Linked DNA regions of Homo sapiens: region 1 is linked to region 2. The links come from fine-mapping of genetic effects on gene expression. A gene starts in region 2. The other region holds a variant in brackets. All regions are shown on one strand. Distances are between the middles of the regions. Region 1 overlaps ALMS1 (ALMS1 centrosome and basal body associated protein). Region 2 holds the start of ALMS1 (ALMS1 centrosome and basal body associated protein).

Region 1 (5,387 bases), 180 kb before region 2:
TACAACTTTATCTGTGTATCTGTTATTCCCTTAAATGGAAGTCTGGGTGAAAAGGGAATATTTATTTCAACATTAGTTAGATATCATCCAATTGTTCCACACTTTCAAAAATGTTGCAACAAATTTGCACTTCTAATAATAGTCTTATAAGAGTACATGAATGTTTCCCCATGTACTCAACAATACTAAGGATAATCAAATCTTTTCATCTGTGCTATTGTGACAGGTAAAACAAAATTTGTGGCTTAGTACATTCTTTATTAAGACAGTTAAGTATTTCTTCATATCTTTAATGGCCATTTGCATTTCTTTTACTATAAGCTTTTTGTTCAGGTCCTTTGTTTTCCTTTTAGGCTGTCATTGATTTGTAAAAAGCTCTTTGCATAGTAAGAAAATTAGCCCCTTTTCTCAGTTTCTCAATTTTTTAAAATTGTTTTCCCATTATTCATTTATAAATTGATTTTGCATTATGATATTTTCTACCATGAAGACACTTTAATTTTAATATATACATTTATCAAATCTTTGGCTTTATGACTCCAAGATTTTGTCAGACCTTGAAAGCCTTCTTCTGCTCAAATTTATTAGAAAAGTCAGAAAACCAGAACTTTTATGATCTCTTTTTTATACTTGGATCTTTTATACTTGCATTTTGGTGACAGGAGTAAAGTAGGGCTACAACTTAAAATTCTCACGATACTCTAAATGGCTAGCAAAGCATCTTGGCATTATTTGTTGAGTAATCCATCTTTTTACAAATGGATCTGAAATGGCACCTTTATCATAGAGTAAGTGCCCACTGTATTTAAGTATTTTCACTGATGTATCAGTCTCTTGTCCCAGTAGCATCCTTTTACTATTATCACTGTATAATTCATTTAAATACCCTGTAAATTGTAATACTGTGATATAATAAATACATATTTTGCCTTAACCCTAGCTCCTGGCCAGAACTACTAAAACTCTTGTAATTTCCATTTAGGAAAACGGGATAACAGCAATAGGGGCATCTTTTATTATGACATTTGGTTTTTGTACTTGGTTCTTGAAACAGTTCAAGAGCGAGTGATAAAGGTTCAAGGAGGGTCTGTTATTCAAAACAAGTCACTTCTGATTGCACTTGAGTTTACATTAATGAGGTGAATTTTGGAAAGCCCCTTAGGATGGGGGGCCTGTTTACCAAGGGAACAACCATATGTTTAGAGGGCTGGAACTTCCAGCCCCAACCCCTGATCTCTGGGGAGGGGACAGGGACTGCAGGTTGAGCCAATCACCAATGGCCAATGATTTAATCAATATTGCCTATGTAATGGCACCTCCATAAAAACCCTAACAGACAGAGTTTGAAGAGCTTCACATCTGGTGAACACAGGAGAAGCTGGGAGGATGGCAGGCCCAGAGAGGACATGGAAGCTCTGTGCACCTTCCCTATACCTTGCCCATGTATCTCTTCATTTGGTTGTTCGTGCGTATCCTTTGAAATATCCTTCATAAAAAATCAGGAAATGTAAGAAAATGTTCCCTAAGTTTTCTGAGCCATTCGAGCAAATTACCAAACCTGAGGAGGGGGTCATGGGATTCTCCCCACCACCCCAATTTGGAGCTAGTTGGTCAGAAGTATAGGAGGCCAAGCCATGCAATTGGTATCTGAAGTGGTGGGCAGTCTTGTGGGACTGAACCCATAACCTGTGGGGACTGTGCTAAGTACAGGTTGTCAGTGTCAGAACTGCTTAACGTGAGGGGAAACCCCACACATTAGGTGTGAATACAGTAGTCCCCCTTATCTGTGGTTTTGCTTTCTAAGGTTTCATTTACCCATAGTCAACCATGGTCCAAAAATATTTAATGGAAAATTCCAGAAACAATTCATGATTTTTAAATTGCACGTCGTTGTGAGTAGTATGATGAAATCTCTTGTCATCCTGCTCCATCCCACCCTAGGATGTGAATCCTCCCTTTATCCAGCATGTCCGTACATTTACACTACCTGCCCCTTAGGCACTTCATAGCTGTCTGGGTTATCAGGGTGACTGTCATGATACTGCAGTGCCTGTGTTCAAGTAACCCTAACTGTAGTTAGTAATGGCCCCAAAG[T/C]GCAAGAGCAGTAACGCCAGCAAATTGGTTATGCCAAAGAGAAGCTGTAAAGTGTTTTCTTTAAGAAGATGAAATTTCTTATTTATCATTTATCTATCCACCTGTTTTAATGTCAGAATGCATTAATTTTTTAAAATAAACTTTTAATTTTAGAATAATTTGGATTTACAGAAAAACGGTGACAACAGTACAGATGATTACCTATACCCCATACCCAGTTTCCCCTATTAACACCTTACATTAATACAATATATTACCATGAATCAATCAATAAAGTTACATTATTATTAACCAAAGGCCATACTTTGTGTTGCCTTGTTTTGTACATACTGTTCTTTTTCTGTTCCAGGATTCTATCCAAGACACCACATTACATTTAATTATCATGTCTCCTTAGGCTTCTCTTAGGTCTGTGAGAATTTCTTAGGCATCCCTTGTTTTTCATGACTCTGACAGTTTTGAGAAGTACTGGTCAAGTATAAATGTCCTTCATTTGAGTTTGTCTCATGTTTTTCTCATTAGACTGGGGTTATGGGTTTTTGGGAAGAAGATTTCAAAGTTAAAATATATTTCTCATTACATATTAAGGGTACATACTATCAACATGACTTACCACTATTGATGATGATCTTGATGACCCGGCTGAGCCAGTGTTTGCCAGAATTCTTCACTATATAGTTATTCTTTTTCCCCCTTCCTATAAAAATACACTCTTTGGAAGGAAGTTAAGTTACTATGTGCAACCCATTAGTTAAGAGTGGGAGTTATGTTCCACCTCCCTGATGGTGGAATATCTACATACATTATTTAGAATTCTGCACAGATTTGTCATTTCCCCCCATTTATTTATTAAATCATTTACTTTTATCAGTACAGACTCATAGGTATTTATTTTATACTTTGGTTATGATCTAATACTATTGCTATACTACAGAAACTGTCCCAGCTTTAGCCACTGGGAAGTTTTTTACTTGGTCCCTGTGTTCCATTGACATATTCCCCATCCCTGTGCATTTTTTTTTCTTTACTTTCTGGCACCACAAAAGGGTTCAGGCTCATCTAATATATCTCCTGTCCCAGTCTGAGAATCAGGCATTTTGCCAAGGAATCCTGGACATTTGTAATTGTGGGTCTCATTTCTGTTTCTTGTTGTTGATACTGTTTCTACTAATAGTGCCTTGACTATGAGCTTGGTATTTTAGGGAATTTAGGGTATTTTAGGTCTGGGTTGAAGTTTCTTCAGAGAGATGTGCATTTGCATCCGAAAGGCATGTGAGTCTGCAATACCAACCTACTGCCATTGTTAAATTCTCGGCTTGAGATTTTTCAGAACACACCTGTAGTTTACTGCACTAATAAATTATACCAGTACAAAATTAATGACTGTAAATCTGTGTGAACACTAGTTTGTGGTTATAAATTCTGAGGATAAATTTTGTCTTCTTTCCCCAAACTCATTATCAAGGTTAAAACAGGCAGTTTTCTTACTGTCCCCTTCTACATGGACGTGTTTATCTTTTATTCTTATAGTAAGAGTGTAGCCCACTGGAGGCCTACTTTACATGGGAATTTCCTTTAACATTTTTCATTATGGGCGGGCCCTAAGTTTCATGTTATGTCCCCAACTTAATGGTCCCATTTGTATGAAAGTCCAGAATAGGGAAATCTACTGAGACAAAAAGTGGATCAGTATTTGCTTAAGTCTCAGGGTTTCTTTTTTGAAGTGAAGAAAATATTCTAAAATTGATTATGGTGATGGTTGATTGCACTTATCTGTGAATACAGTAAAAATCATTGAATTACATGTTTGATTTTTTTTTTTTTTTTTTTTTTGAGACGGAGTCTTGCTCTGTCGTTTGGACTGAAGTGCAGTGGCGCGATCTTGGCTCACTGTCGCCTCTGCCTCCCAGGTTCAAGTGATTCTCCTGCCTCAGCCTCCTGAATAGCTGGGATTATCGGCATGCACCGCCATGCCCGGCTATATTTTGTATTTTCAGTAGAGACGGGGTTTCGCCATGTTGACCATGCTGGTCTTGAACTCCTGATCTCAAGTGATCCACCCACCCTAGCTTCCCAAAGTGCTGGGATTATAGACATGAGCCACTGTGCCCAGCCTTACATATTTTAAATGGGTAAATTATATCTGAATAAAGCTGTATGAAAAAATTTTCTATGGTCTTTTGGAAAGGGTTTTTTTTTTAAGTTTAACCCATATAGGCTTATGCATGCATGCACACACACAGACACACACACACAGCCACACACACCCCACATCAACCTCATTACTTGTATTATTCCCAGGTGTTTTTAAACTTCACTTACAAAAAAAATTTTCATCTCCACGATCTGTCATAAGCTAATTATGTGTGTTCAAGCTCCCCAGTATTATTTTGTATTTGTCCATTTCTCTTTGAAGATTTCCTAGGGTTGTCTGTTTTATTTTTTTTCTCCCTACAAGCAAATTCCACCGTCCAATCCCCCTGTTAAGCACCTTTTGCCTCACAATCCATCCTAAGAGTTGTTTTCATATAATTCCATACCTTCATTTTTTATTTTTATTTTTTTTTTTTTTTTTTGAGATGGAGTCTCGCTCTGTCACCCAGGCTGGAGTGCAGTGGCGTGATCTCGGCTCACTGCAAGCTCTGCCGCCCAGGTTCATGCCATTCTCCTGCCTCAGCCTCCTGAGTAGCTGGGACTACAGGCGCCTGCCACCACGCCCGGCTAATTTTTTTGTATTTTTAGTAGAGACGGGGTTCCACCATGTTAGCCAGAATGGTCTTGATCTCCTGACCTCTTAATCCGCCCGCCTCAGCCTCCCAAAGTGTTGGAATTACAGGCGTGAGCCACCGCACCCTGCCCTCCTTCATTCTTTTTTAAGGCAACATAAATTTCCTTATTGATTGAGCTCCTGGTTTTCGTTTTATGAATTTTTTATGCTAAGTTATTTGATGTTTAAAGATTTATGCAAAATATCCTCATTGTGGATTGCAAATCAGTATAAAAATATACCTCTTCAATTCCTGCAAAACTTTTGGTGAATTTAACCTCATCTATATTAATGTCCCCAAATTTCTTTTTGATACATCTCTAAGTTTTCTTTTTGCTTTCCACCTTTCTCAGTAATTTTACTTTTGATATGTTTGTTATATAGCATGGAACTGGGTTTGTTTTTTAATATAATCCAAGAAGTTTTTTTTTTTTTAATATAGGTGAATTTAGTTTACTTATATATAGACTTGCATGCTTTGCTGTCTTTCATTTTATGGCAATTTTTTGTTTTTGTTACAAATTTA
Region 2 (5,387 bases):
TGGCTCACACCTGTAATCCCAGCACTTTGGGAAGCCAAGGCGGAGTATCACTTGAGCCCAGGTGTTCTACACCAGCTAGACGCCATTAAAAAAAAAGAAAAAAATCTGTGCTCATATGTTTATCACAGCACCGTTCACAATAGCAAAGTCATGAAATCAACCTAAGTGTCCATCAACAACTGAATGGGTAAAGAAAATGTAGTATGTATTAATATACATTGTGGAATATTATGCAGCTATAAACAGAATGAAATCCTGTCCTTTGCAGCAACATGGATGGAGCCTGGAGGCTATTTATCAAGTGAAACAATTCAGAAACAGAAAATCAAATACCACATGCTCTCACTGGTAAGACAAGTGGGTACAATGGGTACACAGAGGCATAAAGATAAATGGGTACAATAAGTACCCACAGACATAAAGATGGAAATAAACAGACACTGGGGGCTCCAGAAGGAGGAGAGAAGGGCTGAAAAATTACCTATCAAGTACAATGTTACACTATCACGTACAAAGGTATATTATTTGGGTGAGAGGTTCACTAGAAGCCCAAACCTCACCATTATGCAATATATCCATGTTAATTACGTGCATATGTACCCCCAAATCTAAAATTAAATTAAAATTTTGTTTAAAAAACTCCTCCTCTAGGCTTCAAGATAAAGTTTGAATATTAATAGTTATTCAAGCAAGAAGTCACAGGACAAAATAAAAGTTAGAAGACCTAGTCAACAAGTGTGGCTTTAATTATGGTCTCTATGTAAATGACTTACAACTTGAAATCTCTAGCCCAGCCTTCTCCTTCAATCTTCAAAACCAAACTCATAATCTTAAGACTCACCCAACCAATTCCACCACCCACTCACAGCCACCACCTCCACCATAAATCTGGCCATATCTTAATATTGGCACAACCATTCAAACAATAACCTAACACCTGGCTACTTCACCTTTCACATCCCATCCGTTATTAAGTATGATGATTTTGCCTCTTAAATATCTCTCAAATCAGTCCACTTTTCCCTGTATCCACCAACACTTCCCTATTCCAAACTTTCATCATCTTTTGCCGGGCAATGCTGCAATGGTCTCCTAATTTATGCCCTTGACCTATGGCTACTGCTCCCCATCCCACCTTGCTATCACAGCTGTTCCACACTCTGCTATACACCTGACCTTTCTGAAACACCTAACTTATCATACATCCCCTCGTTTCAAATATTTTCTTCAACTCCCCAAAGCTCCAGAGATAAAGCCCCTAAATCCTTGGCATAGCACACAAAGCCTTGCAGTCTGTGCTCAAACCACGTTGGCTTCTGGGTCCTGGAAAATGCCATGCTCTCTCTCATCAACAGTACCTTTTCATGTGTTTTTCCCTCAGCTAGACGGCTCTTTCCCTCCCCTTTGCCTGATTAACCTTAAACTGTCTTCAGATATCAGCTCTATCATAACCTCCTCAAGAAGGCTTTCCCAACTTCACTGACAAGGCCAGATTATCTTACTTTATGCTTTCATAGAATATTAGCACATATATTAGTTTCACTTTATGTGATCATCTGAAATCTGTCTGCCTCCCTGTCTAGACCATGAACACAAGGAAGGCAGAGACCAAAAATGTTTGGGTTCACCAAGCTTTCCTTAGCACCCAGCACAATGTGTGGCACATGGTGAATTCTAATAATACATGTTCAATGAATTAAGTACCCCCTGGAATATTCACCAGACAAAACAACAACTACTGCTCATTAGTGACAAAACTCTACACCTTCACTGTCTGTGATGATGGAACTGTTCCATTATCTGCTCTGTCCAACATGGTAGCCACTAGCCTAGTGTGGCTGCTGAGCACTTGAAAACCGGTAAGAACAGACGCATGGAATTTTTCATTTAATTTATTTTTAACTCTTACTCAAAACTATAATAGTTTTCTCTTTAAGATGTAAAAAGCCACACGTGGCCAGTGGCTACTGTACTGAGCAGGGCAGGTCTTGCTCCTCGAAAAGCAGTAAGTTAAAAAAAGGGGGGTAAGGGCAGCAAATTAAATGGAGAGTTATTTTCAAAATGATCTTCGGGGGTCTACCATGAAATCGGCTTTCTCCATTGTGTATTATCTGTGCTTTGTAGTTTTGCAGACTGTTTGGAGCCGCATCACAAGCCTCCTGCATTCCAAGCCCCTCCTATCGGCTGGGGAACCCCTTTATTGCTACAAATGATGGTCCAGGGGAGGAAAACCCGCGGGGAGCCTCTCCAGACTAAGTGATCGCGCGGTGTACATTATCCACATTACTCCCTCAGGGGAGTCCTGCAATTCAGTCAAGCTCATCTGTTCACTGTCTCCCCAACAAGATGCTCCCCAGGCAACCACTCGCTCCGGTCCTACACCGCCTTTTCCCTCCTTCAAGGCTCGACACACCCGTGGTCCTCTCTCAGCGTTTCTCACGGGGAATGCAGGCTCCCCTGAACGTCTACGGGAGTTCAAAAGGCCCAGGACCCACCGAGGGGGAGGAAACGAGAAGTCTTTGCCACAAAGCCTGGGAGACGCGGAGCAGCCGGCCGGCACCTGGGCTGGAGTCTGGGCCGCCTACTAGCCTCAGCTGCGCGCGTTTTCTCCGTCAGGCGGCGTGACCTGCGGGCGGGCGGAGCGCTCGGGGCCCAGCCTCCACCCCCAACTCGCCGCGGCTCCACACCCCTCCCCGGCCCGCCTCACCTTCTCCAGGGAGGTCCGCTCGCCCTCCGAGTAGCGGTGCTGCGGGGGCGACAGCGGAGGCAAAATCCTGCCGGGGTGCGCCTGCAGCCAGGCCTTGGCCTCCTCGTCCTCCTCGTCGTCTATACTTTCCAGATGCTGGGGCCCGTAGTGAGAGTCGGAGTCCAACTCCCGCCCCGCCTCTTCCTCCACCTCCTCCACGACCACTACGTCGTCCACGTTCGCCGCCGCCGCCGCTGCAGCCTCCTCCTCTTCCTCCTCCTCCTCCTCCTCCTCCTCCTCCTCCTCCTCCAGCTCGCCCGGCCATGGCAGATCCTCGGGCTCCATGTTGGTGTCTCGCTCTGGGCGGCAGAGGAGGAGGAGGAGGGGGGGAGGGAGGGGAAGGGGAGAGCCCTGACTGGCGGTTGTGGCCCAGCTTAGGCGCAGTGCCGCCCGCCTGGGCGGGGCCGGAAGACCGCGCGCGCGTTGCTAGGGACGCCGCGCGAGGCCCGGCGGGAACGCCTTAGGGCGGAGGTTTGCTACAGGCGACGTTGCCGCCTCGCCGCCGTCACCGGCCGGGACCTTGCGAACTGTACTGTAAGCTCACAATAAACCGGGACTGGGCGCCTTCCGGGGCGCAGAGGGCCCCGCGCAAGGACAGTGTAGTTCTCGGCTGGGGTCGAGTTTCGCCCCTGCACAGAGAAGAGATCAAACTCTAGGACGTACCCGTTATAATCACACATGCAAATTATAAAGTTTTAAAGGTTGAGTATCTCCTAAAGTGTCAAGCTGTATGGTGGGCGCTTGAACCTAACCGTGGAAAAGTGTCACGGGTTGTTAGAGGGATTAAGAACTGGGCACTGGCATCAGAAAGATCGGAGTTTGAATCCTGGCATCACCACTTAAAGTGGTGTGACTTTGTGTTTATAAAACGATGATAATAGGCCATCGCATAGGATGGGTGTGATAATTAAAGGAAATAATCAATGTGAAGGACTTAGTGATAGGTTGGTTATTGTACAATAACTCATTAGATGCTCACGGTTCTGTGAGACAAGTATTACTATTTCATGTATGAAGAATCTGAGGCTAAAAAAATTAATTTGCCCAAAGTTTCTTACCTAGTAAGTGGCTGACTCAGTATGCCATCCCAGGTCCTCTGTTAGTGTAGGAATTGCCCTGGCCTAGACCAACCAGCTGTTAAAGGATAACAGAGCAAATATTTATACTGATAGTACATATGTTTTGGTGGTTCGTCAATGACTTTGGAGTGCTTTAAAAACAAAGATTTCCTGACCGCTTCAGGAACCTCTACGAAATGAATGGCAAATTAAAGTATCTTAAGATGCCATGTAACCAGACACCACCTGTACCCCCAATAACCTATGGGGAAAATTTTTAAATTAAAATTTTAAATAATAATTATAATCTTGAGATGCTTCACTGTTACCAAAGGAAATAGCCATAATTAAAGTGGAGTCCAGCAAAAAGTCTTCATGGTATTACCCACAATAGTAGAGATACATTGATAATGATGCTGAACCAATGTTGGTGGGGCAATTTTAGGGTTATTGCCAAGGATGTATGTCCTGCCTACCTGTCAATGACCCAATCCTGGCAAAACTTTAAGGGTAGAACATGAACTGGAGCCCAGTCTTGGAGTTCTGTTGAACACCTCTAAATGGACTATGAGTACATTAGGGTTATTTATTCTTAAGGGGTTTAGGGGTTCTCCTTGCCGGAGACCTATTACTGTAATAGTAGAAAAGAATTTATTAATTTTGTATTCCTGAATGTGAAATCTCAATGTTTATCTCCAGTAAGAGGACACACATTTCACTGATATTAAATAACTGTAAAGCTTTACCTTTTTAGAAACTCCGCTATCTTTTTGCATCCACAAATTTCAGGAAAGATAAAGAGAACTAATAGAATTCTAAAAAATAGCTTTCAAAGTTCTCTAACTTCCATCTAACTTCCAAAGCCCAAAGTACTTCTATTTGCCTTGATGGCAATAAGGTCAGTCCATTCTAAGGCCCATAAGTTATCTCCTTCTGAGTTAATAACAGGCTTCCTCATGTATTTGTGAATTACTTCCAATACTAGATGCTACTAATATAAGCTGTTATCACTAATTGCTGCAGGAGACTTCTAAGATTAACTCCTGCTTTATCAACAACAGATGGAAGCTGCATTCTCAAAGCACCCACCTAAGCAGCTTCTGAAGTTAGAGATTTGGTCTTCTGAAAAAGCATTAGAAAACAATTTCCCTTGAGCCTCAATGCAAGAAAAAAAAATGTCAGGTACTATCAACAACTGACCCAGGAGTAAAACTAGAAGACATTGATCCCTGGATTCATATTACACAACTAAAAAGACATGCATCATTTTCTCCTGGCTACCGGACATCCCATACTATTGGAAGACCTCAAACTGAAGATTCCTGGGACTTCCCCAGAAGCTGCTTACTGCAGAAATGGGCAGTTTATACCCAAGACAACAGGACAAGATTAATTTCTGATTCCTTGGCATCTCTTACCCTACCACTAATCTTGCTTATTGCATTTTGACACCCTTGATTAACTAACAAATTGATTTCTCGGGGAGATAACCCTTATCTTCATCCTGTTACTTTTGACTCCCTATGTTCTACTACTTAAAGTAAACATTATTTGGCCAGGTGCAGTGGGTCATACCTGTAATT

What was found. PIP is the estimated chance that this variant, and not a neighbour inherited with it, causes the effect.
Region 1: its variant is the best candidate, but not a certain one, in a credible set for the expression of ALMS1 in blood mononuclear cells (TOPMed, PIP 0.83).

Annotation. Positions count from the first base shown.
Region 1 is chr2:73,563,006-73,568,392 of GRCh38, reverse strand. All of the region lies in intron 15 of ALMS1 (ALMS1 centrosome and basal body associated protein), which reads right to left. Among named protein-coding and RNA genes, the nearest start is that of NAT8, 77 kb to the left of the region's middle. The variant T/C (reference allele first, on the strand shown) is at 2,095.
Region 2 is chr2:73,383,513-73,388,899 of GRCh38, reverse strand. ALMS1 (ALMS1 centrosome and basal body associated protein) reads right to left here and starts at 3,064. Exons shown (of 23, transcript NM_001378454.1): 1 at 2,708-3,064. The coding sequence starts at 3,031. It overlaps LOC105374804 (a long non-coding RNA gene), which reads left to right and starts at 3,219. Exons shown (of 4, transcript XR_007087053.1): 1 at 3,219-3,447. RefSeq lists enhancers at 2,276-2,515, 2,556-3,305 and silencers at 2,576-2,745, 2,906-3,305.